Linked DNA regions of Homo sapiens. The protein of the gene in region 6 purifies or fractionates together with the protein of the main gene of each other region. This does not show direct contact. Each region holds a gene or a part of one and is shown on either strand. Other genes may lie near its edges. The genes, in order: MAN1A2, AGPAT3, LECT2, KLHL26, TPBG, FAM241A and SEMA3A.

Region 1 (4,027 bases), on a different chromosome or scaffold from region 6:
TGCTGACAGACATCTAGGTCACTTACAATATGTCATGTTATAGCTTCAGGGGACATTCTTGAACACTTCTTTGTGCACTGATTTGTGAAACTTCAGTTTCACACGGATTTGTGAAAGAAGTGATTTGAACACTTCTTTGTGAAAATTTCCCAAGGATAAATCCCTAGAAGGATTGCTGAATCAAAGAATATGCACTATAAGTTAGTTGATATAAATAAATTGCTCTTTATGAAAATTCTATTAATTTACATTTACACCAACGGCACTGAAGAAGAGCCAGAGGCTCAATGTTCACCTTACTCAGCGTGTTACCAATCTTTTTATGTAGAGAGAAAAAAATCTAGGTCATGAAAACATATTTATTAATGACAACACAAATTAATAGAAAATAATCCTCATTTATTATATTTAACAGATACACACCAAACACATACAAACTTTGTATCAGATGCCACCTGACTGCCAACTAATTGGAAAAAAGTCATGTATGCATGTATAACATTATAAACATACAGATATAACCATATATAGCCATATGTAAATATGTTCATGTATATATGGCTAAATATAAACACAGTTGTTCCTTGATATCCATGAGGAATTGGTTCCAGGACCTCCCTTGGAAACCAAAATCCACAAATGCTTAAGTCTCTTATATAAAATACTGTAGTATTTGCATATAACCCATGTACAACCTCTCCTGTACTTAAAATTAACTCTAGCTTACTTATAATACCTAATATAATGTAAATGCAATGTAAATAGTGATTATACTGTATTGTTCAGGAAATAATGACAAGAAAAAATAGTCTGTACATGTTCAGTACAGACACAATCATCTTTAACTTTTTCTGAATATTTTCAACCTGCAGTTGGTTGAATCCACACATGTGGAACCTATGGATACAGAGGGCCAACTGTACATACAAAGGTACCAGATCTCAACTTCACACAATGTTAGGAATTCTTTTCAGATGCCAGAGCCTGATTCCTTACCAAAACGCTTCAAAATATTTGTCTCTTTTTTCCAGATGTCAGGCTGTAACTGAGGTCTGAGGAGAGTTGGTGGGTGAGTGGCAGGTAGTTGGAAAAACACTAGAGGAATCATAGTTTCAACATGGCTTTACTCTCTGGGCGTGAGCGAGCCTTGGCGCGAGCCTTTTGTACCACGTTAGCAGGGTAATTAGACCTTTCACAGACCATAGTGGCTCCAAGCCAAGCACACACTCACATGGGTGATCACCTAATGCGCCTCACATGACATGGTTACATAATAAGCGGAGCTGTATGCCTGCACTCCAAACTCACTTGAGTCATGCTGGACCGGATGTCTGCCTCGACCTATTCTTGACCGCAGCATCCATCTTCCTTATACCAGATAACCCAGACCGTATATTAGAAATACATAAATTAGGGCCGGGCGCAGTGGGCTCACGCCTGTAATCCCAGCACTTTGGGAGGCCGAGGCGGGCGGATCACGAGGTCAGGAGATCGAGACCATCCTGGCTAACGCGGTGAAACCCCGTCTCTACAAAAAATACAAAAAATAGCCGGGCGTGGTGGCGGGCGCCTGTAGTACCAGCTACTCGGGCGGCTGAGGCAGGAGAATGGCGTGAACCCAGGAGGCGGAGCTTGCAGTGAGCCGAGATCGCGCCACTGCACTCCAGCCTGGGCGACAGAGCAAGACTCCGTCTCAAAAAAAAAAAAAACATAAATTAATTATCTTAAATACATCTTAGAAAAAGAAAACAAAAATGGGGAGAGATAGAATAACTTATCTGAACTCTTAAAAAATGCCAATGACCTAAATGCCTGTACCAGAACCTCCCATAGGTGGAAAGTTATCTCTAAGACCCCTGGAATCTGGCTCCAAACATAATAATATGCTTTAAGAAAAATATCAAGACGTGAGTCTAAGATCTGAATTTTTCAATAGTCAAAATTAATCTTCTGTAACATTCATTAATAATCTCCAATATTTAGCAAAATGCCTGGTACATAATAAACACTCAAAACACTTGCTGAACAAATGATTGTGACTAATATTTTTTAATGGTAATATCAACATCACTAAGGGGAGGCCAAGAGAGCTACATAACAGGTTGATTATATAAATATTTTTTTAAAAAGTCAAAAGGAAAAACAACACCTGTGTTCTTTGTAATCTCCAGATTACTTAATTTCCTCTTTTTTTAAAAAAACTATTTGTATAACTTGTCCCAAAAGTTGTTCTTAAGATATGGAGAACAGGAGAGAACACTTTCAGTGGAATCTCTCAATATTAAGGTTAGGAAATTATAGTCCTTCCCATGAGAGGTGTGTTTTGTTAAAAAATTAAAATAAATTTTTTTAAAAAAGGAAATTATAGCCTTAAATCAAAGAAAATTGTGCCACAGGAGTAGTAAGAGCCTTCAAAGGGTCTGAGGCCTCAGTCAAGGACTGTATTCCACAGAATCTATCCTAAAGTCTCAGGTAACAGGTGAAGACGTGTAATTGATAACTGGGCTCAAGAAATGACACCTGAAAACAATTTTGTAAATATACCCACTACATTCAGGCTGGCATATCAAATGCTCAATAAACTATACTTTAAAACTAACAAGAAACAAGAATGTATAAAAGTCATTTCGTTCATTTTCACATTTTAAATCGGTATAGATTTCATTATGTAAATAATAATATTATGTAAATAAATTTTAGTCATTTCCAAAGTGATTTTAAACTAATTTTTATATACAAAAAAGACACTAATTCCTTTAGAATACATTTTATCTTTGTAATATTTGAGATGTATGAACTAAATTACTGCACACTCTTCAGTTCCCTACTTCATAAAATTACTTGTATTTCATATGCATGAGCTAGAAAAAAATCTTTAAAGATTCAATCAATTCCCTCATTTCATAAATAAGAACATCGAGGCACAGAGAAGTTGAATAGCATATCTAAATATACTTCAACAACCAAGGACAATGGTGAAACTAAAGCCCCTGTCTCTTAACACTGAGTCCAATGTTCTTTCTAATATATAATGATGCCTTCCTTCTGGACTACATTAAATTCAAAAACAGATCATTGGAAAGAATGCCCTTTGAAGGAGATTTTTTTTTTAATGACAAATCCTAATACCCAATCTGAAAATAAAACTCCAGTGCAGACTTCATTACAACCATGTTTTAACAGGAATAAAGTTCTAGCAAAAATTCAATAGCAGTGAAAATAAACTTTTCTGACAGAATTTGCACAACTAGGGAAAATAAAAGTAGCAATATGATTTTCCTATCCAAGAAATATGTGGAGTCAGCCCAAACCAGAAGTTAATTTTTTTTAAAGAGGCAGAGCCTCTGTCTCTCAGGCTGGAATGCACGGACACAATCATAGCTAACTACACCCTCGAACTCCTGGGCTCAAGTGATCCTCCCACCTCAGCCTCCGACTACAGGCAGGCACCAACCACCATGCCCAGCTGTGTGCATGTGCGAGTATGTGCAGTGACAGGGTCTCACTATGTTGCCCAGGCTAGTCTCAAACTCCTGGCCTCAATCAATCAATCCTCCCACCTCCACCTCCCACATAAGTTAAATATTCTATAATTTTCAAACAATAGTAAACAAAACATTTGCCCAGTTAAAAATAAATTGGCTGCTCTGCCTATAATCCTTTGTTTCTTTCCTCCTCTAATAAACTTGCTTTCACTTAAAAAAAAAAATCAATTAATGTTTACCATGTACTACTGATTTCTAGAAGATACTTAGCTTCTGCATTACCAACTTTCCAATCTTAGGCATGAGCTCCAATTTGAAAGTATCCATATCGATAAAAATAAGATTCGGTTGGGTGCAGTGGCTAACACCTGTAATCCGAACACTTTGGGAGGCCAAGGTAAAAGGATTACTTGAACACAGGAGTTTGAGACCAGCCTGGGCAACAAGTAAGACCCTATCTCTACAAAAATTAAAACTTAACCTAGCATGGTTGTTCACACCTGTAGTCCCAACTCATGCCCATAGTTTCAGCTACTCAGAAG
Region 2 (4,027 bases), on a different chromosome or scaffold from region 6:
ATCGCTTAAATCTGGGAGGTGGTGGTTGCAGTGACCCGAGATTGCACCACTGCACTCCAGCCTGGGCGACAGAGCGAGACTCCGTTTCAAACACACACACACACACAAAAACACACACAACAAAACGAACAAGAAAACAAAAAAACAGAAATGCTAACAGCACAGGCAGCCCATTTTCCAAGACAGACCAGGAAGAAGGGACAGAAAAAGAATGGGGATGCACACTGAGCAGGGCGGGCAGAGCCAGGGCTCACTGGGGGCACCCTGCTCTGCCCCCTCCCCCGGCCAGATCCCCTTAGGATGGCCTGGTCAGAGCTGGGATTGCGGCGAGTAGCAAGCAGGTGGCCCAAGAGAAGCCTCCACGCCTGCAGCTCAGATGGGGGAGTCATGGCCCCATGGAAACAGCACCCCATGTGCAGAGGCTCTCATGGGGTTTCCCAGCCTGGGATGTGGGCAGCCGTGCATCAGGAGTTGGCGTGGCCTCCTCCAGGCATGCAGGGTATCGGGCTGCTCCGCGCACTCACCCACATGTACTCGGGGTAGTCCGACAGGCGCCTCAGCCCTTCGACCACGGTGTCCCGGTCCTCCTCCCACTTCCGCTTGCAGAACACAATCTCCAGAAAGTACCACGTCCAGCCGATGAGGGGCACGTAGAGCAGCTCCTTCTTAGCGAGGACCTTGGAGCTCTGGAGGGAGGAGAAGGAGGGGCACCTGGCACTTCAGCGTCGGACAGAGGCCAGGGGCTTGGCCAGGCTCCCGCTGCACCCAGCTCCTGTGTGGTGTCGCTCTAGGAGTCACGGCTTTGTGGCTCAGGGGGTCTGCTGTGAAGCAGGACCCGGCTTCTGAGGGTGAGTGGGTCGCCCCAGAAATGAGGAAACTGAGGCTCAGGCTTGGCTGGGAGGGCCCTCAGGGAAGGTGGATGAGCCGGATGCAGAGGCTGCCAGGCTTCCGGGGGGTGGCCTGGGGGTGCTGCCTCACACAGGGGCTTTGACTGCAATGAAATTCTTCTGCCAGCATCGGGGAGTAGTTTAGGTTTCATCTGAGGCAGCTTAGCTAACGGAAGTGGTTCTGCAGGGACGCAGGTGGGGTCATCTCAAAGGCAAAGGCCATGATGAGAAAGGAGGGCACAGCTCGGGGACAGCTGAGGCCCTGCGGGCCAGGGCCCCTCAACCAGCCAGGCACCACTGCCGAGCTCAAAGAGACGCCCCAGGAGGAACACCCAGGGACTCGGACCCCAGGGGCCTCCCCGGCACCTCCTCAGGGAGTCCCCTGCTCCCCTAGCCCTTTCCCTGGGAAACCCAAGGCTCTCCCAGCTCCTCTGCTGGGACCCCCACTGCTCCACCCAGTACCTCCCCCACCCAGGGCCCTCTTGCTCACCCCAGCACCCGCCTACTCCCCCAGATCCTCCCCAGGACCCTTGCCGCTCACTCCCAGCACCTCCCCTGGAAGGTGCTCACCCTAGCCTCTCCCTGGGACCCCCCACTCACCCCCAGCCCTCCCCAGGACCACCCCACCCTGCTCATCCCCAGCCCTCCTGGGACCCCGCCCAGCTCACTCCCAGTCACCACCCCACCCCCAGCCCTGCAGGGACCCCCTGCTCACCCCGGCCCTCCCTGGGTCCCCGCTCACCCCCGGCCCTCCCCGGGACCCTCCTGCTCACCCGTGGCCCTCCCCAGGTCCCCGCTCACCCCCAGCACTCCGAAGCGCTCACACATGGTCCACCCACAGAGGAAGTCGATCTCGAAGTTGTGGTTGAGGATGATGACTGCGTGCTCCTTCCCAAAGCGCTCTACCGTGGCCTGGTCCGTGAACAGTGTACACTCCGTGCAGGACCACCACTCCAGCAGCATGACCAGTTCTGCGGACAGGGGGAGGGCGTTGGCACTGGTAGGACCCCTCCTCCTGGGATGGTCAGGGAGCGCCCACAGGAGACACCTACAGTATTTTTGTCCAGAGAGGAAGTCTCTGCTAAACATGAGTTTTGATGACTTACACTGAGTACGTTTTATGAAATTACAATAACTTTCTCTAAGCAACAGTTGGGAGGAGACAGATGGAAGGTAGCAGCAGAAAGGGAGAGAACCGCCACTCTGCATGGAGACGCTGATCTTTACGCCCAATTACGCTTCTCACGTGCACCTTGGTGTGGCCGAGTACCGCACAGCCACGCCCCGTGAGAGGTGCAGAAGATGAAAAATGTCACTAGATGATTAGGAAGCAGAAAACAACCATCGTATGTCTGCAGAACAGACAGTGGGAAAAAATGAAGAGTTAAGAGCAGAATGGAATTATAGACGACAGAGTAATAGGAATTATATTTTCTCCTAAAACTTGCTTTGGGGTTACACTGGTTTTCCATATTTAAAAAAAAGCCATGTGAGGCCTAGCCCGCCCCCAGGAAGGCCGGCTGGGGGTGCTCGACGGGGCTTGCTGCTGGGCAGGTGGCCAGAGGCCTGCGGGGTCCCCAGAGACAGCAGGGCACACCTGACCCCGTGGGTGCTGGCATGTGAGGGGTGCCAGTCCTGGCTTTGAGTGCTTGTCCCCCCCACCCAGGGGTTCTTGGAGCCTCCTCCCTTGGTCTCTTCCCCTGGCTCCGGCCTGGTGAGCTGAAGACACTCTTCCCAGAAGTGTGGAGGGGCTCGTGCCGGGAGATCTGTTTGCCGGCAGGAGACCTGCACGCCTGGGAGGGCTCTGGGGCTGCTGGGAACGCAGCATCGTCTGTCTCCTGATGGGGACTCTGGGATGCCCTCATTCACCTTCGGGAGAACTGCAGGGCTGAAGAGTTCCGTGGTGAGAACGGTGCATCTTTGTCACACGTGGGCCTCAGAGGGAGTTAGTCCTGTTCAGAGGGCCATGTGGGGAAGGACAAGAGGGAGGCCAAGCAGGTGGGCCTCTTGTCGGCCACCAGAGTCTTGTGCCCCCCAGCCAGTTGTCCGGGAAGGATGGCCCCACAGAACCAGGACGCGGCTTCCAGCTCAGGACGGCCTCAGGCTTCTCGCGCTGGACACCAGCCCAGCTCTGAAGTGTGGGCTTTCTGCAAGGCCATTGCCCGGGGTTCTTTTATACCAGTTATTTATAAAGGACACTAGAGACCAATTCCAAAGACATCCTGCACGGGTGAACAAAGGGCCGCTACCCGAGATCACGCAGCTCAGCCCAGGATGGCCAGAGACGCCTGCAGACAGCGTGCAGGTGCAGGGAAGTGTCTTCCCAGCGGTCATGATGCTGCAGGCACATGCAGGCGAGCAGAAAGGACGCAGAAAGGAGAGAGGGAACTCAGGGTTTGTGGGGGTACCAAGGGACCCCAATTCCTTTAAAAGAGAAAGGTCACCTGTGGGCAGAGGCAGTGGACGGGAGGAAATCCTGCGTGTGGGGAGAAGACTCGCTGACCAAGCCCCCACAGCAGGCCTGCCCTGGCAGGGGCGCCCCCACCGCTGGCTCACCCCTGGCAAGTGCTTGAGACCTCTGCCTTTAGGGTCATGCCTAAAGGCTGGAGAAGGGGAATGAACTGAATGGGAGCCCACACAGCCAGCCAGACACAGGCACACTCCCCATGAGTGTTCTGGAAAGACGAGCTGCGCTGTCTGGAGAATGGTCCCATCCAAAGGTCACCTGTGGCAAGCCCAGGGACATGTGGCACTTTTCCCTTGCTGTCGGCATGCAAAGGCAGCCTTCAGCGGATCTCAGGACCCCTCGGCTGACGCTGGCTAACTGCAGACAGCTGTCAGGGCAGGCATCTGTAAACTGTCTTGCAGGGTGGGCGGCGCCTGGGCCCGATATGAAATTCCTTTTATCATTTCCTTCACTCAAATACATGCTTCCCTAAAGCACAATGAGTAAGCCAGCCATAGCCTATTTTTCAACCACGGATTTAAAAAAATCTAAAATTCTGGACGGGTGCGGTGGCTCAAGCCTGTAATCCCAGCACTTTGGGAGGCCGAGACAGGAGGATCACTTGAGGCCAGGAGTTCAAGACCAGCTGGGGAAGCATGGCAAAAGCCCATCTCTACTTAAAAATAAAAAAAAT
Region 3 (4,826 bases), on a different chromosome or scaffold from region 6:
CCCGCTGCTGTCACTATGCCTGCTCTCACCAGCCTCCCCTACCTTCTAATAGGCTGTCACCTGAACGATCAGGTTCACCAGGATTGCTGCAATTATGTACAAAGCAACACTGAGCAAGCTCAAGAGCCAAGAATTTACTGTATCAATCAAGTGCATAAACTTTGCAGTATAAGCTGAGTCTGAATTTTGGCAATTCAAGGGACGTTTCCCATATTTCCCTTCTCTTAGTCCTGTTTCAGTATTTGAGGTTGCTTTGTAAGTAGTATCTGTATATGTGAGAGTTCCCCTCTAGTTAGGATGGAGATCAGTGATATGACTGGACACATGGCTATTTCATTAGAAAGTGGCACCCCAAGGTGATGTTGGGTATAACTGAAAATTCACAAGTGTGACCCTCATTTTCTGGAAGAGATAGTGGTGCTTTCTCTCCTGCTTAGGGCCAGCCTCTAATATTCAACATCCAGAGCCTGAGCCAGTAACCGCGTGGTTTGGTGGGAAGAGGAACCAAAAGCCTGAATTCAGGTCCAGGCTTCACCATCTCCAACTGTGCTTGGCAGGTCCCTTAACCCTTTGGTACCTCAGTTAAAGTTTCTCTTCTATAAAATGGGATAGTTGTGTTTAATAACCCTTTGGAAAAAAACAGTTGAGATAAGTGAATGTGTGAAGACATTCAGAAGGAAAACATTGTGTTTGCTCCCTGATCTTTTCCTTCTTCCACATTCTGATCCCAATTTATAGCTCATACTTGAAGCAGAGTTCTTGGAAGCTGCTCCAAAGACAGTGATGTAACTGGTTACATCTCTGGTTTTTCATGCTGTCAGAACTGTGAGCCCTTGAGGCAACCAACGTTGGGCAAGGACACTAAGAAAAGAGGTTAGGGACCAAAGGGTTGGGTGGGTGGTTGTGCAACTTCATACCTTTGAGCAGAGTACTGTCCACAGCCATGGCGGTCACACGTCCGGATCTCATTGGAAGACTTGCCAGCACATATATTAGCCCATGGCCCTGCCAGTGCTAAAAAGGAGAAAAGTGAGAGCAGAGCTCCTGGCCTCAGACATTTCCTATCCCCATTTGCCTTATCAGTCACACAGTTGATCCTGACAATTCTGTTTTCACTGTAGTTTTCCCTGGACTTTATGTATTTATGGGAAGATCGTCCTTCCAGAATTTTATTTCCTGATTCAGATGTAAAATTGGCTTTTTCCCTGGCCACAGAATTCTGCTTTGTGACGTTAGAGTATCAGTGAATACAATTTTTTTTTTTTTTGGATCGGAGTCTCACTCTGTTGCCAAGCTGGAGCACAGTGGCGTGATCTCAGCTGACTTCAACCTCCATCTCCTGGGTTCAAGTGATTCTCCTTCCCCAGCCGCCTGAGTAGCTGGGACTACAGGTGCGCACCACCACACCCAGCTAATTTTTGTATTTTTAGTAGAGACGGAGTTTCACCATGTTGGTCAGGACGGTCTTGATCTCTTGACCTCGTGATCTGCCTGCCTCAGCCTCCCAAAGTGCAGGGATTACAGGCGTGAGCCACTGCGCCCAGCTGAATGTGTTTCTTTATAAGCATTGGCCTCCATCATTATACTTTGCTTCAGATCCATTAGTAAATGGTATAAGTTGTGCTTTTCTATTTTTCTTTGCTCATTATCTGCCATGGGGATCATTATTTTTAGATTAAGCAAAAATAATAAAATAGCATGGCTCAGAAAATAATTTTAGAAATTGTAATTTTGAAATGGTTAGTTCCACTAATCAAATCCAAGCAAATGTTTGAATTAAAGGAGAAACGAACTCTGTACTAGCCAAGTTTGTTTAACACTAGATAAATCTCTCATAGTTGCCAACATGGAAGAGGGAGATTCTTAAAAATAATCTGAAATGTCAAACCAATTTAGCCTAGACTGAGATTAGGGGTGAAGGTAGGAGAAGGAGTAGAACCAATTATATGAAAAATTATGAAACGTGGAGGAGGGGCTGCTTTCTCAGCAGACTTGGTGCAAACTTTGTTTCAGGCACAATTTGTTTCTTTACTATAGTAAGCACTTAATAAATGTTCAATGGAATTAAATGTCCTGGATTTCCAGTGTTAACATTCACAGAGAGATACAGTGAGCACACTCAACCTTGCACTTTGAAACAAACAAGCAAAAGCGAGAGCCTGGTAATTTGACTATTGATTTTATTTAAAGACATTTTACTCTTCATTAATACCTATCCTGTGAAGAGAACCTACAGAATATGGCCATTAAGCCTCTTCTTTAAAATACTTTTAAAAGGTGGGTTTCAAAAGTTTTATGCCTTGGAGCCAAGCTCCAAATCAACACCTTGATCAAGATATAATCCCATCACTTTGGCAACTAATATTTATCCTTGGGAATTGAGGCAAATATCAGACAGTGTAGTAATTTATTCACTTTTTCCTCCTTCGGTGAGTATTAAGGGAGCCATCCCTTTGTCTTAATCCATACCAGTCTCTGTATTAGTATCTGTATCAGAATTTGATTTTGATCAAAATCAGAATCAAATATTTATATCAACTTTTTATTATCTAGTTTTGTTCTAGTTAAGTCCCAGACCCAGACTCAGACTGAAAGGCTTTGTAATGTCTTCTCAACCCACTATTATGTTTCCCTCATTAAAGAACCGGAACATTCCATTTAAATTACTTAAAACATCCTCAGGACCATGTGTCATTCCTATTTCATTTTTAATAGCCAAATACACAAGTCTTTGTTGTGATCATGCTATTAATGACTTTTTAATCTTTTTAGTCTTCCCCTGAAATCAGTTTTTAAAAGTTAATCAATATTCTAAAATTGCACTTTCGACTTACCGGTAGAAATCAGACCAGCCAAAAGGAGGGCTTTGGTGGAAAACATCTGGTTTTACTTCCTTTAGTTTCTTCCTCTGATTAGAGTTGCCCCCACACTCTCTTTGAAGAATATTCAAGTTTGAATGAATACTTCCTAGCTATTTAGCCTTAGAATTCTGCATCTCTCATTTCTTTAGTGTGAGACACAAAAAGTTTAAGAGGATGGAGCAAGTCAAGTTCTAATATTCCATGGATAGCTATTTGATTTGCAGGTAGGGCCTATGTAAAAGCCTTTGATCTGAAGAAGAAGCCAATTATATTGGAAATACTGACTAAATATTAACAGAAAATGATAAGGCTAGGTGCATATCGACAGTCTTCTGGGCTGTGGCTTGTAGGAGAATGTTCGTGCGAATGATGGAATATTTAGTGCTGCCTGCTGGTAGATCTTTCTTTTATTTCCTTGATAGCACATATTTCAGAAGAAAATTGGTCATTAATAATGTGTAGCCCTTCATAACATATTCCTTAATATATCCCTTAGGTGTTTTTGAATTCTCAGTTTAATTATATTTCACCTGTGTAATATTTGCAAATAACTTTAATATTTTAATAAAATTGCATGTATTCACCTTAAATATGTGATTTTTAAATGTTTTCTTGTTTATGATAATGGTAAGTTAACACCATTAAAAGCATCCATCAATAAAGGAAAAAAGATTAATTATAATATAGTCATTGATATGGTTTGGATCTGTGTCCCCACCCAAATCTCATGTTCAATTGTAATCCCCAGTGTTGGAGGTGGGGCCTGGTGAGAGGTGATTGAATTATGGGGCTAGAGTGCTCATGAATGGGTTGGCATCATCCCCTTAGTGCTGTTGTCCTGATAGTGAGTGAGTGAGTTATGGTGAGATCCGGTTGTTTAAAAGTGTGTAGCACCTCCCCTGTTCTCACTTCCTCCTGCTTCAGCCGTGTAAGACATGCCTGCTTGCCCTTTGCCTTCCGCCATGATTTTCAGTTTCCTGAGACGTCCCAAGAAGCTACCATGCTTTCTGTACCTCTTTTCTTTATAAATTACCCAATCTCAGGTATTTCTTTATAGCAATGCAAGAACAGAATAATACAGTCATACAACAGAGTAAAATATAACAATTTAAATGAAGACAATCTACATGTATTAACACAGCTAGATCTCTAGATATACTGTTGAATTAAAAAGCTATTTTTAGAATTATATATATAGTATCATACTATTTATAATATGTAAAATCTGAAAACAAGTATATTAATCTTAATGAATGCTGTATGTATAATAAAAATATGCACAGACTACCTTTAAGGTACTAATTACTTCTGGATAGTGAGAGAAATAAAACCGTGGAAGGATATACAGAGTACATAAACTCTAAAATATTTTATTTCTAAAAAAAGAAAAAAATCAGAAGCAAATATGTTAAAATATTAATTTGTTAATTATTGGAGATAGACACATGGATGTTATGTTACCCTGTACTTTTCTGGGGAATTAAATTTTCAGTGTGTTTCAAATATATGTTAGCAGCTCCTTTTTAGCTTAATATTAGATGAGCACCTGGAATTTTCTATGGAAGCTTCCCCATTTAAATTATGTGCCAGTAGCTGTGGGAGATTGGGATTGTAGCCCCAGTTCTTCACCCTCTCTGCATCCACACCTTTGCCATGTTTCATGGGGGCAAAGGGAACTTTCCTCACCCTTGATTTTGGGTTTAGCTGTGTAGCTTTGACCACTAAGATGAGGCAGAAGTGGCAGTGGGTCGGGAAAGCCTGGGTCTTCTGGGGCCTTAGTCTTTGCACACTCCTTCCTGTGTTTCTACATCGCCGTGAGGCAGATGATCCTGCTGCCCTGGGAAGGGAATGGATGCCATGCAGAGCACAGTTGCCCCTACAAAATCCAGCTTAGTATACCCTATGAATGTATGGGCTTAACTGGCTGTCATTGGAAGCCACTGAGTTTTGGTGTGGTATGTCACA
Region 4 (4,027 bases), on a different chromosome or scaffold from region 6:
CCATCCCTAAGATGAGAGGAAGGAAACAGCCATGTGGAACGCGTCAGGCATCACCAGGGCATGAGGAGGAGGCCTGGGGAGGACAAGCTGCTTCCTCCCCTCTTTGGTCCAGCGTGGGCCCTGTGCCCTGTAACCAGCAGTGGATGGGCCTCACCCTGCTTTCTGGGCCTGGGGTGTCCTAAATTCCAGATGGGAGCATCCAGATTCTCCGAGTGTGTAGTCGTCACGTGCTAGTGGCAGCCTGGGTCCCAGGGCTCTGCGTTTGCTCATCTCATCCTCCAGCGGCCCTGGGGCTGGGGAGCTGGATGGTCATTTGCCCCTGCTTTGTAGCTGAGGCCTGGGTGGTTGAGTGACTGCTGAGTTCCCAGCTAACCAGAGCTGGCTTGGCCCAGGCTGCTGGCCCCTGATGTCTCCTCTGAGATGCCCTGCCAGTCAGCTGAACTGATCCTGCCTTCTGGGTTCCGGGCACCCTCTCTGCTTGCTGGGGAACCCACAGATCCCATGTTTGGAACACTGGCCCACCTCCCTGGTTTCCTGTTCCTCAGTCATCAGAGTAGCAGGGTGCAGGGCAGTAGCTCCTCTCCTCCCCAGAGGGAGGTCCTCTCTGTCCAACTTCTCAGTTCTCCAGATATGTTCTGTGCACTCATGGGCAGATGCATATGTGTGGCACTTTGAGCCCAAATAGCATCCCACTGTGTGCACTCTGCCTCTTCCTTCCTCCTGCAGCCTTGACGTCATCCCCTGCATGCAACATCTTCCCCAGGATGCGTCAGCCTCCTCACCCATCTATAGGGCAGCCCTCACTCAGAAGGTGCTGTGATTCCACGAATCTCCTTTAAGGGTGGTTAGCTTATTTCTCGTCTGTGGCCCCTAGAGATTGTATTTGGGTAAGTTTCAGAAATAGAGTTCTTGGGTAAAGGACATGAGCCTTTAGAGTGTTGCTGAGTCTACGCAGCTGCCTTCCTGGGGGTCACCTTGCTTCATAAGCCCCCCGAGAGTGTGCTTCCCTGACTGCAAGCGAGGCTGACTCTTACGTCCTTCTAGCCAGCTCTGCTTGCTTTCCTGGGAACCATTAGCCCACATTCTTTGTGCATCTTTCGATCTCACTCTGTCACCCAGGCTGGAGTGCAGTGGCACAAATATGGCTCACTGCAGCCTCCACCTCCCGAACTCAAGTGATCCTCTCACCTCAGCCTCCCAAGTAGCTGGGAACACAGGCTCATGCCAGCATGCCTGGCTAATTTGTATTGATTTCTTGATGCTCTTTATATATGGAAGAGCATGGTAAATATGCTCCTAAGGACTGAGTGGCCCCGTGGTGAACTTGTCCCAGTGCAACGTGTTTCTTCTGATGAAAATGTACACATGCACACCTGCCTCCAAGGGCTTTACAGGAGGCACGAGAAGTCCTCCCATCCCTCCCCGCAAATCTCCTTGAACTTCTAAGGAAAAACCAGACCAAAATCAAAATGGCAAAGGCTGGCAAGGCCCATGCATACTTCTGGGAGACAAAGTGTCCACAGAAAGGCCGGCAGGGGTCACCCAGAGCCCGAATGCACAACCCTTGCCACAGCTGCAACACAAAGCTGATTCTGGGTGATCTGACCCCTTTTGGTCCCCATTGCCTGGACCGCGTGCCCATGAGGACGGGGCCTACTTCGTCTCATTTACGCAGCATCCCTGCATGCACGGGCAGGGAAGAGGAGTTTGCAAAGCCAGTGAGGCAAACTGGGGACAAGGAGAGACCTTGAGGGTCCTCAGAGGCACATGCAGGATGCGGCTTTGGCCCCAGGCAGCCTGGACACCCGTCGCAGGGTGTCGGTGAGAGGGCATGCCATTCGTGGGAAGCAATGAGACCCTGCCCTGGAGATGTCCAGGCAGGTGCTGGACCCCTGTGGGGGGCTGGATAGGGGAGAGCGGCCCATGAGCCTGCGACATGCTCCTCACAAGCCTCGGATCTGGATCTGTCATGGGTCTAGGGAAAAAAGAGCCAAGGCTTGGCTCAGGGCAGCAGCCTGGTCAAGTGGGATCGGGGCCGATGTGTGGGGAGGGGAGGAAGGGAGGAGGGGAGGTAAGCGTCCCTTCCACTTGGCAGGGGAAAGGCCACGGGGACAAGCCAGAGTCTCAGGGTGCACCTGGACCCCTTTCCTTCCCTGCCCTCCTCAGCTTTCAAAAGGCTGCACCCCCACCCTCCCAGGCAAACACCAGGTCTGGGCTCCAGCACCCCCAGCACCGCAGCATTGCTGGCCAGCCCAGATGACCGTGGCATTGGGCTCTGAGTAGCATATGTCCTGCTTCCCCAGGGACTCAAAGGCTTTCCACTGAGCACAGGCCCCACACTGGGTCCTTCGTGCTATGTCCCCACCCTCTAGGACATGCAGTGCCTCGCAGGCAGGGCTGGGGCTTGGGCAACTTCTCTGCCTGTGGTGCCTTGCAGGGCTGTGGTCAGCGCCTGGCCCTGAAGCCCCTCTCCCCGGCAGTTTGTCTTGATCACTCACCCTTTCCCAAGGGTCTCTGGAAGGGTGGTCTGAAGGGGAGGTCAGGGACCTCCGGTGGCAGCTGCTATGTTGACTGAGTGCCCACTGTGTGCCCTGTGTTTGACGTTGGCTCTTTAATGCCCACTGTGGTTTTGGGGCTGGCTGGCAGTGGGGCCAAGGAGCCTTCCGTCTCCTCCCGCTTTCTTGGAAAGATCAGTGCCCGCATTCCTGGCCTTTGCTTACAGGCAGGCGTGGGTCCCAGGAATGGGAGAGCAAATTCCAGAGGGCAGAGGCCACCAGGACAGAGCAGGGTGCCTCAGCCCGGTGGGGGTGGGGGTCTTAGAGGGGACTGATCCTGGAGGTGGCACCAGGGTCCACCCCCTGTTGTGTTCTGAGGAAGAAGTGGTGTGTTAACGGCTCCTAAGCTATTAATTCATTGATCCGTTCAACAGTTTCCCCAAATGAAATAGCAAAGGGGTGGTGGGGCTGGAGAAGAGGGGATGAGGGGGCAGTAGGGGCAGTGGGGGCTGGACCACAGAGGGCTCGTATACTCTGGGGTGCAGGGGGCTGTGGCGGGGCTTGCAGGGGACTTGAGAAGGCTCCCGTGTGTCCTTTGGTTTTTTTATTGAAGTGAAATTCACGTGACATAAAACTGTCTGAAAGTGGACAATTCAGTGGCATTTAGTAGATTCACAGTGGTATGCAAACACCACCTCTGTCTAGTTCCAGAACATTCTCATCCCTCCAAAAGGAGACCCCACCCCATCAGCAGTCACTCCCCCCTCCCCTCCCCCAGCCCTTGGTGGCACCCATCTGCTTCCTGTCTCTGCGGATTTGCCTGTTCTGGGCATTTCACGTCAGTGGAGTCATACACAGTGCGGCCTTTTGTGTCTGGCTTCTTGCACTGAGTGTTGTGTTCAAGGTAATAGTGTGTGTGTGAACCTCTGGGCCATGTCCCCACCTCTGCTTTCCCCGCAGCACGGCCGACAAGAACGGGGCCCTCAAGTGCACCTTCTCGGCACCCAGCCACAGCACCAGCCTCCTGCAGGGCCTGGCCACCCTCCGCGCTCAGGGCCAGCTCCTCGATGTTGTGCTGACTATTAACAGAGAGGCCTTTCCTGCACACAAGGTCGTCCTGGCTGCCTGCAGCGACTACTTCAGGTAAGTGCTGGCCCCAGGCAGCTGGAAGGGGCGGCTGCCTGTTGGGACAGGGACAGGGCAGATGGCACCCACTTTCTAAAGGGGGCCTGTCTCAGCGCTACCCAGGGACAGCTTCGAGGGAGAACGGCTGGTACCGGCTGCTCTTTTTTTTTTTTTGAGATGGAGTCTCGCGCTGTTGCCCAGGCTGGAGTGCAGTGGCACAATCTCGGCTCACTGCAACCTCCGCCTCCTGGGTTCAAGCAGTTCTCCTGCCTCAGCCTCCCGAGTAGCTGGGAGTACAGGCACCCGCCACCATGCCCAGCTAATTTTTTTTGTATTTTTTAGTAGAGACGGGGTTTCACCATGTTGGCCAGGCTGGTATTGAACTCCTGACTTCGTGATCTGCCTGC
Region 5 (4,789 bases), on a different chromosome or scaffold from region 6:
ATATTAGACATTGCTACAGTTTGATTCTCAGCTATGTTAAGTAATAATTATCATCGGAACCAAGACCATTGAATACTCCTGCCCTTCATCCTTTTTTCAAAGCAAACTTGCACACACTGTAATTCTTTTAAGAATCTTTATTTTTTTTTTTTTTAACAATTCAGTCGGTTGGATCTCGATGCAGTTTATTAAAAAAAAATCAGTACATTTTCATATAAACTGCAATCAAAAAAGTAATTTACTTTGTCAAAGAAGTTATGAAGTTGCAAGTTATTTTTTGTAATATGCAGAACAGTAAAATGTAAGCATGCTCTTGGATGCAGGTGCTCCTGTGCACCATGGAGTTATTTTGAAGAGCCTGCTAACGTCTGCAGGCAGTTTATAGGATGCAATTATTTTCTCCACAACTTAGGTACATGAGAATAAAACTGATATTTATGAATAAAGTATTTTTCTCGAAAAAGTTGAGGCAGCTTTTGTTGAATGCTATCTGTGTGGGTACACTTGCTACACCTTGAACTGTACTGAGAGAGAGACAGACAGCAAGAAGCCCATGTTCATGCTGAAACCTGAAAAATCCCTCCATACGTGTTGAGGAGTTCCAAGAAAAAGAAGAGGGTAAAACACTATACACAACTGTTCATCGTCTTACATTAACAGAACACACCGAGAAACTTTACATAACAAGGAAGCAAATCCCCTTCACTGCTTTTAGTCAAAGTCCGTTGTATCTATAGTGGAGGATGAAAGTGGAGCAAGCCTAGTAGGGATAAAGCTTAAGTCTACATCTCATGCAGAGTTGTCCTTGGTCTGTCCTCTAATATTTCTCAGACATCCGAGTTAGAACTGAGGTTCGTTAATCTGGGGTCCGCATTGATTTCATATCTGTAATGATACCCTTCCATGTGATCCCTGCAGGCATCTCTGATGTTATGCATCCACTTTTTTATCCCCTTGCGGTTCAAATACAAAACCAGGAGGAAAATAGCGCCTATCAGGGCTAAAACAATACCCAGGAAGACATAAGAGGTTTGCAGGGATGGGGGAAGAATCGGGTCACAGTCCAGGTCAGCACTGTTGAGTTCCAAGAGGACCCGATTCCTCATTTTTTCCGGATATGCACAGGTGAGCCGGTCTTTGCCCTGCACTACCTCTGTTTCCTTGAGCCAGGTCACCATGTCTGCCATGTGGCAGTCGCAGACCCAGGGATTGTTGTCCAGGAAAACCCTAATGTGGGGTAGACCTTGCAACTCAGCCAGGGTGCCATTGTGAAGGACCTTGAGGGCATTGTCCTCCAGGTGGAGGCTTTCTAGATGTGTCAGGTTGCGGAAGGACACGTAGGTCAGGCTCACCAGCGAATTATTACTTAAGTCCAGGTGCCTGAGGCTGGGCAGTTGGGCCAGCACATCCCGCGGCAGGTAAAGGAAGTGGTTGCTGGCCAGCTCCAAGCGGCGGAGCCCCTGCAGTGCACGGCCCGCCAGCAGGGCCGCCACCACCATGCCCTCGAAGCTCCGGTTCTGCCGCTCATCTTCAGGGGGCACGATGTGGTTCAGGATCAGTTCCACAAGGGGACTGGGGGCCGAGACGCTGGCATTGCTGCCCGAGAAAGCGAAGGGACTGAGGTCGGCCAGTGGGTTGTGGCTGAGGTCGAGCTGGCGCAGGCTGGGCAGATGCTCGAAGGCGCCCGCGCGCACCTCGTCCAGGCGGCTGCCGCTGAGGTTGAGCGCGGCCAGCTCCGCCAGCGGCGGCCGGCGGGCGAAGGCGCCGGCAGGGAGCACGGCCAGCTGGTTGCCGGTAAGGAAGAGGTTGCGCACGTAGGCGGGCAGGTCCGTGGGCACCTCGGTCAGATTGCGGTTAACGCACTTGACTGTGCGCGCTGCCTCGGAGCACTCGCACAGCGCGGGGCACTGGTCCGGCAGCGGGGGCTGGGCGGACACGGCGGAAGCCAGGAACGGCGCCGAGGAGGAGAAGGAGGATGCCGAGGAGGTGGGAGAAGACGAGGAGACCCAGCCCAGGAGTACCAGCGCTAGTCGCGCCAGCCGCAGACGCCCGTCCCCGGCGGCGGGGCCCCGGGAGCACCCCCCAGGCATCGCGGCTCGCGTTTCCCCGGAGCTGGGCTGGGACGGCGCCCGCTCCGAAGGCTCGGGAGGCTGGGCCCGGAGGGCGCGAGCCGGCGGAAGCGTCTGGAAAAAAAAAACTTTCCTCTCGTGGAACCGAGGGAGTGGCGCCGCAGCCGGAACTTGGCTAACCCCCTCGCCACCGGGCGCTTCCCTCAGGGGCCGATTCCCCCGCCCCTTCCCTCCAGAAAGTACGCACGGCGGGTCGGGACGCTCCGCTCCGCGCTCCTGCTCCCGCTCCTCTTCCTGCCGCCGCCCTGGTGCCACCTCTTCGCCTCTTGTTGGCGCCCCTCGCTGGATCCTCTGAGGGACCTGGGACAAGCAGGAGAGAGGCGTGAACAGCGGTGGCTGCCGCGGCTTCCGGAGTGCAAAAACCGGCCTTTTCGAGTCTAGTCGTCTCCAGTCTGTCCCAGAGACCTCCTTCCAAAAGCCCGCCCCGGCCTCGCCTCCCCAACCCCTCCGGTCACTTTTACTCCGGAGGGGGACGCGCATCCGACACCCAGACCGCAAAGTCTTCCTTCTTCCCTGGCCCACACTAAATAAACCCGACCGGCCTCCCGCCCTCCGCCTTTCCCGAGGAGACTCGTCTCCCGCGTCTAACTTACCGCTTAATCCCCAATTCCTTCCCTACCAAACTTCTCCCTCTCCCGTTCCTTCCTGCACCGCCTCGGCGGAAGGTCGGCCTCCGGGTGTCTCCGCCCCCGCCCAGACCTCTCCACCAGGTCCCGGTTAGGATGCGAGGGAAGTTTCAGGTTACAGGACTTTTTGATCTCTTTTTGTACCTTCTCGCATTAGCAGGAAGTGGAGCTACAACTGTCGCCCCCCAGCCCGCGCCCCGCCAGCCCCTCGGATCTCAAAGGGGTTCAAGTCATCTCCAAAGAGGAGGGGAGAGTCTGGGAACAAAGCAGCAGTGGGACTCGGGGTACAGTGGCAACCCGAACCAACCCTACTCTCCACCCGAGGATGGGGAGGGGCCCCAACGACGCCTCCCGGGTCTCTCCCAGGCCGCGGGCTCCCACTGCTCACCTCCGCGTCCGCCGCCTCCAGAACCAACTCTGAGTTCCACCAGAGTAGCGACGACTTCCCGGCTCCGCGTTGCGGGCGCCGACTCTCTTCGCACCCCAGCCCCTGGCCCAACCTCCCAACCTCCGCAGCTGGGAAAAACCAACCCGGGGGGCGGGGGAGGGCCAGGACTGTCGGGGAGATTCCCGACGCGCGGCCAACCTCGGCAGCCGTAGGTAGGGGGATTTAAGAAGAGAGACTAGGGGAGCTGGGCTGCGCGCCTCCTCCTGGTGGAAATTAACGAGGAATGTGCCGGAAAAGGTGAGGGAATCCCTTTCTCTCCCCCCTCCCCGACATCCTTGGGTGGTTCCTCATTTTGCATACTGTATTTACCTTGGACTGGAGCAAAACCGCTGGTGAATCTCGTGGAATTCACCCTGATTCAGGCACCTTTGGCAGTGACGAGATAGATTTAGGCATGACAGAGCAGCGCGAAGCAGCAGCAGAAAGAAATGAGCTGAAAATCTACTGCGGCAGCAGCAAAGGCACGGCAGGTTGTATGGAAGCTTCAGAAGCTCTCCCCATCAAAGTGGTACTTGAGGCCGCAAACTTCAGATTTAGGTGTAATTAATGCCTTCCCGCCTGTCCCCCCCGCCCCCTCACTTCTTGGGTAGTGATGGAACTTGTGAAGAGAGCGCGCCAACTTTAAGAGAGAGAGAGAGAGAAAGAAAAAAAAAAGATTAGTGGAGAGGAGATTCATTCCTGATTCATTAGCTTTTCTCTTACCAAAATTAAAAGCAGATGGAAGAGAAAGGCAGCCAAAGGCATCCCAGAAACAAAAGGCAAATAGCAAAGACTTGAGTCTCCCGGAAAGCGGACCCGCCCCCCTCCCCAGATGTAGCGCGGTGTGTCAAGTCACTTCTGTGGAGAAAGCTCCAAGGATGAGGAGTGGGGATTGCAGGAGCTGACCTGGGAGAGAAGTTTGGTTTCAAAGTCGATTGTCCCAGGGGGCATCTGGCAGATGGTGATGGAGAGGATGGGGTTGGGGAGAGGGACAAATTGAATGGTTGGTTACCGGAAGGATCTGTTATTATACCAGACAGGTTTTGGGTTCTGAAAGCCCTATCGTTGCTCTCTGTAACTCCACATCCCCTTTGTCCCAATTAAATAATTTCCCCGAAGGGATAAGAAGGTTCTTCCAGGCTTCTTCATTTTAGAGAGAAAATGGCAATTAGGGAAAACATGGTTCGGAAATTTAAGACCTGGTCGTATTAAAAAAGATCAAATAAGGATCCTGAGGCTTGTGCCTGGGACATGTGCCTTTAGTGTGAAGAAAGACCCCAACTCTCCAACGGACGCCTGATTACTTTTATAGAAAGAGATAGTCTGCAAAGCCGACAGCAAAAATGGCTCAGACAAAAGCTGAAAACACTGGAAACTGCAGAGATTTGTGCACAAAAGCTGGTTTCATTAATTTGCATCTTCAGCACGTTTATCTACATCTCTTTTCTTATTTTTAAAAGTGTTTTGCAACATGAATGTAAAACACTTTGAAAAAGAATCTCTAAAGCTGTAGTCATGTTCTGTATCCGGATTGTGGTGGTGGTTACATAAACCTATACAACGTGTTATAACTCATAGAACTTTGTAAACCAAAAGAGTCAATTTTA
Region 6 (3,178 bases):
TTCTGCACAGCAAAAGAAACTACCATCAGAGTGAACAGGCAACTTACAAAATGGCAGAAAATTTTCGCAACCTACTCATCTGACAAAGGGCTAATATCCAGAATCTACAATGAACTCAAACAAATTTACAAGAAAAAAACAAACAACCCCATCAAAAAGTGGGCAAAGGACATGAACAGACACTTCTCAAAAGAAGACATTTATGCAGCCAAAAAACACATGAAAAAATGCTCACCATCACTGACCATCAGAGAAATGCAAATCAAAACCACAATGAGATACCATCTCACACCAGTTAGAATGGCGATCATTAAAAAGTCAGGAAACAACAGGTGCTGGAGAGGATGTGGAGAAATAGGAACACTTTTACACTGTTGGTGGGACTGTAAACTAGTTCAACCATTGTGGAAGTCAGTGTGGCGATTCCTCAGGAATCTAGAACTAGAAATACCATTTGACCCAGCCATCCCATTACTGGGTATATACTCAAAGGACTATAAATCATGCTGCTATAAAGACACATGCACACGTATGTTTATTGCAGCACTATTCACAATAGCAAAGACTTGGAACCAACCCAAATGTCCAACAATGATAGACTGGATTAAGAAAATGTGGCACATATACACCATGGAATACTATGCAGCCATAAAAAAGGATGAGTTCATGTCCTTTGTAGGGACATGGATGAAATTGGAAATCATCATTCTCAGTAAACTATCGCAAGGACAAAAAACCAAACACCACATGTTCTCACTCATAGATGGGAATTGAACAATGAGAACACATGGACACAGGAAGGGGAACATCACACTCTGGGGACTGTTGTGGGGTGGGGGGAGGGGAGAGGGATAGCATTAGGAGATATACCTAATGCTAAATGACGAGTTAATGGGTGCAGCACACTAGCATGGCACATGTATACATATGTAACTAACCTGCACATTGTACACATGTACCCTAAAACTTAAAGTATAATAACAATAAAATAAAAGAAAAAAATTAAAAAATTAAAATGTAGTAAATAAAGGTCTATTAAAAAATACTGAACAAAAGTGAAGTTCTGGTAGTATCAGTGACCGTAGGTATTGTAAAATATCCTTTTTGGAAAAATAGTGAATCAACCAAACATTGAAAATACATTTTCTCCTAAAATACACAAGTGTATAGTGGAAATACTGTGTATGTATCCAAATAACAGCAGTATTCTTTTATCAGAAGTGAATAGCTTTATAAATTATAATGTATACATCAACCCATGCTCTTTGTGCACAGTAAGTATACTTTTGGAGTCAAAGAACTTCAAAGTACAACCAGCTCTAGATCTTTTTTGTTAGTGGTCTATATGAAGACCATGAGTAGATGAAGTGGGTTTACTTGATAAATATTTTGATGGCCTATTATGTCCCAGGCATTGTGTTAGGCACTAGCAATGCAATTATAGAATGACAGACATGTTCTCTTCCCTTGTGAAGCCTATTGATTAATTTAATAATTAATCAATTATTAAAGCAGCAGCTGACAAATAAGCTATTGCAATATAGCATGAGAAGTGCTGACCTGGAAAGCACAGGGTTGCACTTGAGAAACCAAGCCATAATGAAGAACCAAAACTGGATTTAAAGGAGTCAGAGAAGTTTCCCTGGAGGACATGATGTCTCACTTGAGGTCTTAAGGCTGTGTAGATATTGGTCAGTCTGGTAGGGAGCAGTTAAAGAAGTAAAGCATGTACAAAGTTCTGGAAGTAAGAAAGCATGTCTCTTTAAAGGAACTGGGGAAAAGTTCAGTATAGTTGAATCCTGGAAATGGAGAGTGGCAGTATAGAGAGATGAGGTACGCAAGAACCAGTACATGAAGAGCCTTGTAAAACATATTAAGGCATAAGGACTTTATCATAACGAAAACAGAAAGCCATTGAAAAGATTTAGGTCAAGGATATCAGAATCATGTTAGAATAATTCTTTAGAAAGATCTGTAACTACAAAGTGGAAAATGAAGGTAGGGAGGCTAATCAGGATTCTCAGCATGCCAGGTGAGATGATGGCAGAATGGACTCAGTGATGCTAGGAATGAATAGAAGTAGAAAGATTATATTTTTAGAAGTAAAATAGATTTGGTACTTGGTTACATGTAGGTAGTGTAGGAAACACAGAGTCAAGGATGTCATCTACAACTCCTGCTTGAGCAGTTAGGGAAAGGATTGTGTCATTTGCTGAGATGGGAAACAGGAATTAAAGATTTGGGAGAAGGATGCTGCGCTCGTTTGGACACGCTGAGTCTTGGGTACTATGGGATAACCAAATGCAAATAAATATTGGGCAAGCAATTGAATGTAGGAGTCTTAAATTCTGTACAGTGCTCTGATCTAGAGATGCAAATTGGGGAGCTGTTAGGATGCAAATGGTAACTCTGCAGCCACGGGAGTGGTGACATTGCCGAGCTGCTGTGTGGAGTGATGTGAGAGCAGGCTGTTGGACTGAACTCCAACGCATACCAAAAATTAAATGTTGGGCAGAGAGACAAGAGTTGCAAATGACCTCTAATCCACCAATACTCCTGAAGTCATAGTTTGTAAATAAGTTTATATTCTTCTCGGCCAACTCTATTACCAGGCATGAAAGTCTTTTTTTTTTTTTTTTGAGATGGAGTTTCGCTCTTGTTGCCCAGATTGAGTGCAAGGGCATAATCTTGGCTCACTGCAAACTTTGGCTTCCGGGTTCAAGCGACTCTCCTGCCTCAGCCTCCTGAGTAGCTGAGATTACAGGCATGCACCACCACGCCTAGCTAATTTTGTATTTTTTTTTTTTTTTTTTTAGTAGAGACGGGGTTTCTCCATGTTGGTCAGGCTAGTCTCGAACTCCCGACCTCAGGTGATCCGCCCGCTTCGGCCTCCCAAAGTGCTGTCCCAGCACTTTTATAGGGATGAGCCACCGCGCCTGGCCGTCTTACATTTTTTTTTCTCCCTTCAATTGTAAAGCCATAAATTGGTAATGAAAGCATTTTAAACACCTGAAATTAATAAACATTTGTAAAATAACTATTAAAACAATCTATGAACCACACGAATAGCCTTTGATTGCTCCAAACCTGGCTTTGACTATTTTGAGCTTTCTATATTACAACAGACCTTTACTTATACTGTAATTTTTCCTCTATCATTCTGTAAGTTTTGCCTTTC
Region 7 (4,786 bases), on a different chromosome or scaffold from region 6:
TCCTGTATTTCATGAGAAAAGTGAAATTTGACTAGTTTTGTAGAAGAAATAAACATTTATGCATGGACCACTTTTTAAAAGAAGGATTTTACCATTTAGCTATATTACATATATTTAAAGAAGACAAAAGTATTTCTGAGTAAATGTTTCTTAAGGATAATTTCTATGTAACTGCTGAGATTTACAGAGTTCTCACATTTTCTTCCCCCATAAGGATTCTAAATCAAATTGGTTCAGAGGAAAAGCCAGCATACCCCATTTTTCTAATATTATCACTTCTCCAGATGGTCCTGAACACATCTATTCAATTCCTTTTTCCTAGAAAGTAAAGAGGTATCTTATTAGATATGTACACCCGCTACAAAGGCCACTTTCCTGTTTTTACTTCTTTTTAACATGTCAAGTCTCTTTCATCTCCTACCAGGCAAAAATGATAAGTAGAAAGTAAGCACAGTGATTGCCAGAAACTTCATCTTGGCAACCTGAGCAATGAGAGAGTTAATGGTGGATCTTTGAAAACAAGTGACCATGGGAAATTAAGGTTGGCAGGGATTTAACTCTTCATGAATCATGCTGGAATATTTTTAAGGGCAATGCAGTGGATGTTTTAACTGTGTTTGACATCTAATTAAGGAGAAACAAGAAGTAGCTTTAAAAAAATCTCTATTGTACTTTAGAAACAAAGTACTGGCAATTGGCTACCACATACTTGCTTTGGCCAAACAAACGTACATGTAGAGACAAAAAGGTAATGACAGATTAATAAAATAACAGAAAAAAATTTCCTCAGGCCATTCCTTTTATTCTTCTTCCTGTTGTTCATTTCACAGTTTATTTTACCAAATTATTAAGCTCTAGGTGTATCAATGGGATTGTTATGTAGCTGTAAAGCAGTTTTTTACTTAAAGGAAAGCAGAATAATTCTAATGGATGCCATCACTAAAACAAGGCTTATAAAGACAATATCAAATATATACACCTTGCTAATATATACTGCTTGCTTCATCAGATAGGTTTAAGGCATATGTGTACAACAAAGGATATTCAAATTAAATGTAATATTTTTAATGTACAGAAAGAACAAGTGCCTCCTCTATCATGGAGAGTAACCTATTATCATGGAAATAAAATTCTTGCAAAATAAAAAAGTTTAATTCCCTATTTTTATTTTATTTTAAAATGAATTTAGCACTTAGATATATTCAAGCCTAGCAGATTTTTAAAATATATATCATGATTTTAAACTTGTTAAACTAAAAGTATTACAAATAGCCAGTCACATCTTTGAGAACTAAAGTTGCATGTAAAACTTATAGGGAACATAAACTTGGATAAAGTGGACCATCAACTTAGACTTATTTGATGTCACCTTGTCAAGGAGTGAAAACAGAAAGCAAAACTGATAAAAACACAGACACCATAATATCATATACTATGGAAATAATTTAAAGACAGTTACTAAATTAATTAAATAACGCTACATGATTTTTTAAAACTTACATAAGTACAATTGCACTTCTGTTTGTTGATGTTTAAGTCTCTATTCCCAACTTGATACTCAGGAAAACATTACACCAAAAAGTAAATAGATATTCTAATTCAATGCATTTCATTTAACGAGCACTAAGTCCAAAGAAACACATTACTAGGTGTTTAATTTTCTAATTCAAAGTGTGAAAATTACATCTCTCTTCTGATTTGAGATCCTCATTCACACTAGGGCATTCAGAAAAAGATGTTCCCCATCATATGAGAATTAAAGAATATGTTTTGTGGCATAAGAGCAAGGTACAGTAGACAGACATCTCTACAAATACCTTCAATAATTTTTATTTTAACTTATAGGCTAAAAAATAAGCTTAATTAGAGCTTCTCACTGCTCCACCCCCAATTTTAGAAATCTGAGAATCATAAGAAATCAACACCTTAGGGAGTAAAACTACTTGAGTTAAAACAGTTTAATCTTCAACTCCATTTTAATAATACCTGAGTTATAGAAAGATTTACTGCCACTAAATGTATGTATATCATTTTGGGCTCTACTTTAGCATTACTTTACACATCATCTATCTATAAGACCTATCTAAGCAAATGTGGAACAAACATAAAAAATCCTCAATAAAAATAAGCACATACATTAAATTGTAACCAAATAAAGCACTAGTGATAAAGCTCTTTTTTCTCTCTTTAATTTATACTTTTCAAAAGAGAAGTTTACACAACTACCTATGCAAGCAGACAGTAATGTGTCTGCAGTTCTCACTGAAGTACATATAGAATTAAATAACATAATATTTCAAAGACTTTAGCTTTACACAATTAGCCAAATACAGTCTTTTGTACAATCATAAGGCACTGTGGAAAAACTAGTCTGTTCCATCCAGTTTATGTTCTCTTGGCAAACCATGATCTACTGCTTATGTTAAGCATCTGATTGTCAGATTTGAACAAACTGAATATTCATGATGACGATTAACCATTTCATGTCTAAAACTAAGAAAATGCAATTCATCATAGTAATTATAGGTAAGGCATGCACATCTACAAAGAGACCATTTTTGCATTTCTATTTTTAAGAAAATATTTTAATAGAATTAAAGTCGGAAAAATTAACAGGCATAAGATAGGATAATAAGATATACAGATCAGCGTGTACCAGGCATACAGCTCTTTTCAGCAAATGTGATTAAATGTTCTTTGTTTGCATTTAAGTTGTCATATATCAAACAGAAGACATGCTTTTTACAAAAAGCGTTTAAAGCATCTCAGAAAGATACACATAATCACGTCGGTTTACCAGGTTAAACTAAAGGTTTGATGATTTGGGGTTGGGAGGGAGTTCAAGGAATTAAGGGGGGGGGCGGTTATTACAAAGCTAACCAAATAAAAGAAAAATAAGATTTACCTTTGTAGGATAATTTCAGCCTTGGCACATTGTTCTTCCCATTCTGATAGTTTGCTCTTGCTGTAAGTAATACTCCCCAGAAAAGACAGACAATCCTAGTTAACCAGCCCATGCTGCAGACGCTGTAGGTCCCTTTGCTGCTTTAGTCTTCCTTCCTGTATTGTGCGGCCAGAGAAGTTCAAACAATCTGGAAACTGGAGGTAACAGGTGATTTAGGTCAGTTTCATTCATAAATGCAGACAATCAAGACCTCATGGCAACACTAACACCTCTTCTTCTGTAACAGTCACTGAAGCACAGAAACTTCAAACCCTCCAAAAAGAAAAAAAAAAAAAAAAATTCCGAGCCAGGCACCGGATAATGAGGCACAACTGTTGTGTGGAAAGAAAAAAAAAAAAAATTAACAAGGTCTGCTGCAGTGGTGCTTAAGAAGCAGTTCCTTTTATCTAAGCTCCTCTGATAGCCGGTGGCAGTCTCTAATCCTGCTCCCTGCTTCATTCGGCTCCGGGGAAGCAGAATGAAAGGGAAACAGAGAGAGAGAGAGAGAGAAAGAGAGAGAGAGAGAGAGAGAGAGAGAGAAACCGTGAGCAGCGCGGACTTTTCCTGTACGCATGTAGAGGGAGATGACACAAGATCCCACAGACAGGTTTCCCCAACACTCACTAGACTGGCTGACAATGGGAGAACAGGCGAGCTCAACCTACTCCCCTTCCCTCCTGTCACACAACACATGCAAAAAACATCTCGTAGAGATTAGAGCCGGGAGCAGAACCCTCAGGCGTGCCTGTGAAAGGCATGTAGCTATAAATTTACTTCCCAAGGCAAGCGTTGTTTTATAGCCATTTTTGGGTGCAATTTTGATTTTAAAAATCTGAATTCTGCTACCTACAAAATTTACAATTCATGCTCATTATACAATCCTGCTGAACTTGTGCATTGTATGTGTGCGTGTGTGTGTGTGTGTGTGTGTGTGTGTCTATATATCCTCATCAATACAACTTTAACCACTGAAGGTTTTAAAGCCTTGTTAGAGATCATTCCCTCCTCCCAACAAACCCCCTGGGCTCAACCACCCCCTTCCTCTGTCCCACTGCAATTTCAGGGAAGAAATTCCTACTAAAGCCCATTCCAACAATCAGTTCAAGACAAATATAGGTCCTTTGAGAATTATAAATTACAACGGGGGATTCTCAAAAGGATACTCAGAATTTAAAAACGTCTATGGTTTTCCAGCTTCTGGAATGCTCTGGCTAACATTTTCAATGCATCACATCTCATTAATTAAAGACACTTCCCTAGTTTTGGTTTAAAGGGCAGCGGAAGATGACAAAGTTCACAAAAGTCCCTGCTGAGTGTCAAGGAGTAACATGAAAAGAATATCTCTGTGTCTTCATGAGCTGCTGAAGGGTTACTAAATTTTCTGTGGGACGTATAGGCATGTATTCAGGCAGTCATATGAACACCATTAGTTCCTTCTGAAACAAGTAGTTGGCTGTGGCCTCTCAATTTTCTCTCTTATTTTTCATTCAGTTTTCCTCAAAGCTGATATTTTTACAAGAATCTTTAGGGGATGTATAAAAAAGTTAACAGGACAGAACTTTCTCTCCTTTATTCCCCAAATGATTCTGCCCTACCCCCTCCTACCACCACTCCCCACCCCCCACCTCCAGAACAGCACTTGGAATCCAGAGACTCAACTTCAATAGTAGGGAAACTTCTTGGCTGAAGGGAGAGAGTGAGTCTCACAATTAAAAACATAAACACCTACTGAAAGTGGCTTAGTATTCTTAAGAAAATGATCTAAGCATTGTCACTACAGCTTTCATTACTTAATGTCCACAGACCAATAGAGAAAGCACAGCGCTCGCTCGCTCTGCTTTC

The links.
Region 1: the proteins of FAM241A (region 6) and MAN1A2 purify together in Homo sapiens (affinity purification with mass spectrometry; one large-scale study listed by BioGRID and IntAct). This does not show direct contact.
Region 2: the proteins of FAM241A (region 6) and AGPAT3 purify together in Homo sapiens (affinity purification with mass spectrometry; one large-scale study listed by BioGRID and IntAct). This does not show direct contact.
Region 3: the proteins of FAM241A (region 6) and LECT2 purify together in Homo sapiens (co-immunoprecipitation; one large-scale study listed by IntAct). This does not show direct contact.
Region 4: the proteins of FAM241A (region 6) and KLHL26 purify together in Homo sapiens (affinity purification with mass spectrometry; one large-scale study listed by BioGRID and IntAct). This does not show direct contact.
Region 5: the proteins of FAM241A (region 6) and TPBG purify together in Homo sapiens (co-immunoprecipitation; 2 studies listed by BioGRID and IntAct, with this or other methods). This does not show direct contact.
Region 7: the proteins of FAM241A (region 6) and SEMA3A purify together in Homo sapiens (co-immunoprecipitation; one large-scale study listed by IntAct). This does not show direct contact.

Annotation. Positions count from the first base shown.
Region 1 is NC_000001.11:117,373,598-117,377,624, reverse strand, and holds part of MAN1A2 (mannosyl-oligosaccharide 1,2-alpha-mannosidase IB), read right to left. Parts: intron 1-4,027. UniProt on the Homo sapiens protein: Involved in the maturation of Asn-linked oligosaccharides. Progressively trim alpha-1,2-linked mannose residues from Man(9)GlcNAc(2) to produce Man(5)GlcNAc(2).
Region 2 is NC_000021.9:43,965,777-43,969,803, reverse strand, and holds part of AGPAT3 (1-acyl-sn-glycerol-3-phosphate acyltransferase gamma), read right to left. Parts: intron 1,859-4,027; coding exon 1,689-1,858; intron 687-1,688; coding exon 525-686; intron 1-524. UniProt on the Homo sapiens protein: Converts 1-acyl-sn-glycerol-3-phosphate (lysophosphatidic acid or LPA) into 1,2-diacyl-sn-glycerol-3-phosphate (phosphatidic acid or PA) by incorporating an acyl moiety at the sn-2 position of the glycerol backbone.
Region 3 is NC_000005.10:135,951,954-135,956,779, forward strand, and holds the start of LECT2 (leukocyte cell-derived chemotaxin-2 precursor), read right to left. Parts: upstream 3,031-4,826; 5' UTR 2,881-3,030; coding exon 2,835-2,880; intron 1,015-2,834; coding exon 918-1,014; intron 1-917. UniProt on the Homo sapiens protein: Has a neutrophil chemotactic activity. Also a positive regulator of chondrocyte proliferation. Does not show metalloendopeptidase activity.
Region 4 is NC_000019.10:18,660,806-18,664,832, forward strand, and holds part of KLHL26 (kelch-like protein 26), read left to right. Parts: intron 1-3,455; coding exon 3,456-3,638; intron 3,639-4,027. UniProt on the Homo sapiens protein: May play a role in endo(sarco)plasmic reticulum (ER/SR) mitochondrial signaling. May be part of the ubiquitin-proteasome system (UPS) and affect ubiquitination and degradation of target substrates in cardiomyocytes.
Region 5 is NC_000006.12:82,362,263-82,367,051, reverse strand, and holds the start of TPBG (trophoblast glycoprotein precursor), read right to left. Parts: upstream 3,236-4,789; 5' UTR 3,144-3,235; intron 2,809-3,143; exon of another isoform or gene 2,723-2,808; intron 2,430-2,722; 5' UTR 2,091-2,429; coding exon 828-2,090; 3' UTR 1-827. UniProt on the Homo sapiens protein: May function as an inhibitor of Wnt/beta-catenin signaling by indirectly interacting with LRP6 and blocking Wnt3a-dependent LRP6 internalization.
Region 6 is NC_000004.12:112,190,160-112,193,337, reverse strand, and holds part of FAM241A (uncharacterized protein FAM241A), read right to left. Parts: 3' UTR 1-3,178.
Region 7 is NC_000007.14:84,191,570-84,196,355, forward strand, and holds the start of SEMA3A (semaphorin-3A precursor), read right to left. Parts: upstream 3,221-4,786; 5' UTR 3,018-3,220; coding exon 2,906-3,017; intron 1-2,905. UniProt on the Homo sapiens protein: Involved in the development of the olfactory system and in neuronal control of puberty. Induces the collapse and paralysis of neuronal growth cones. Could serve as a ligand that guides specific growth cones by a motility-inhibiting mechanism.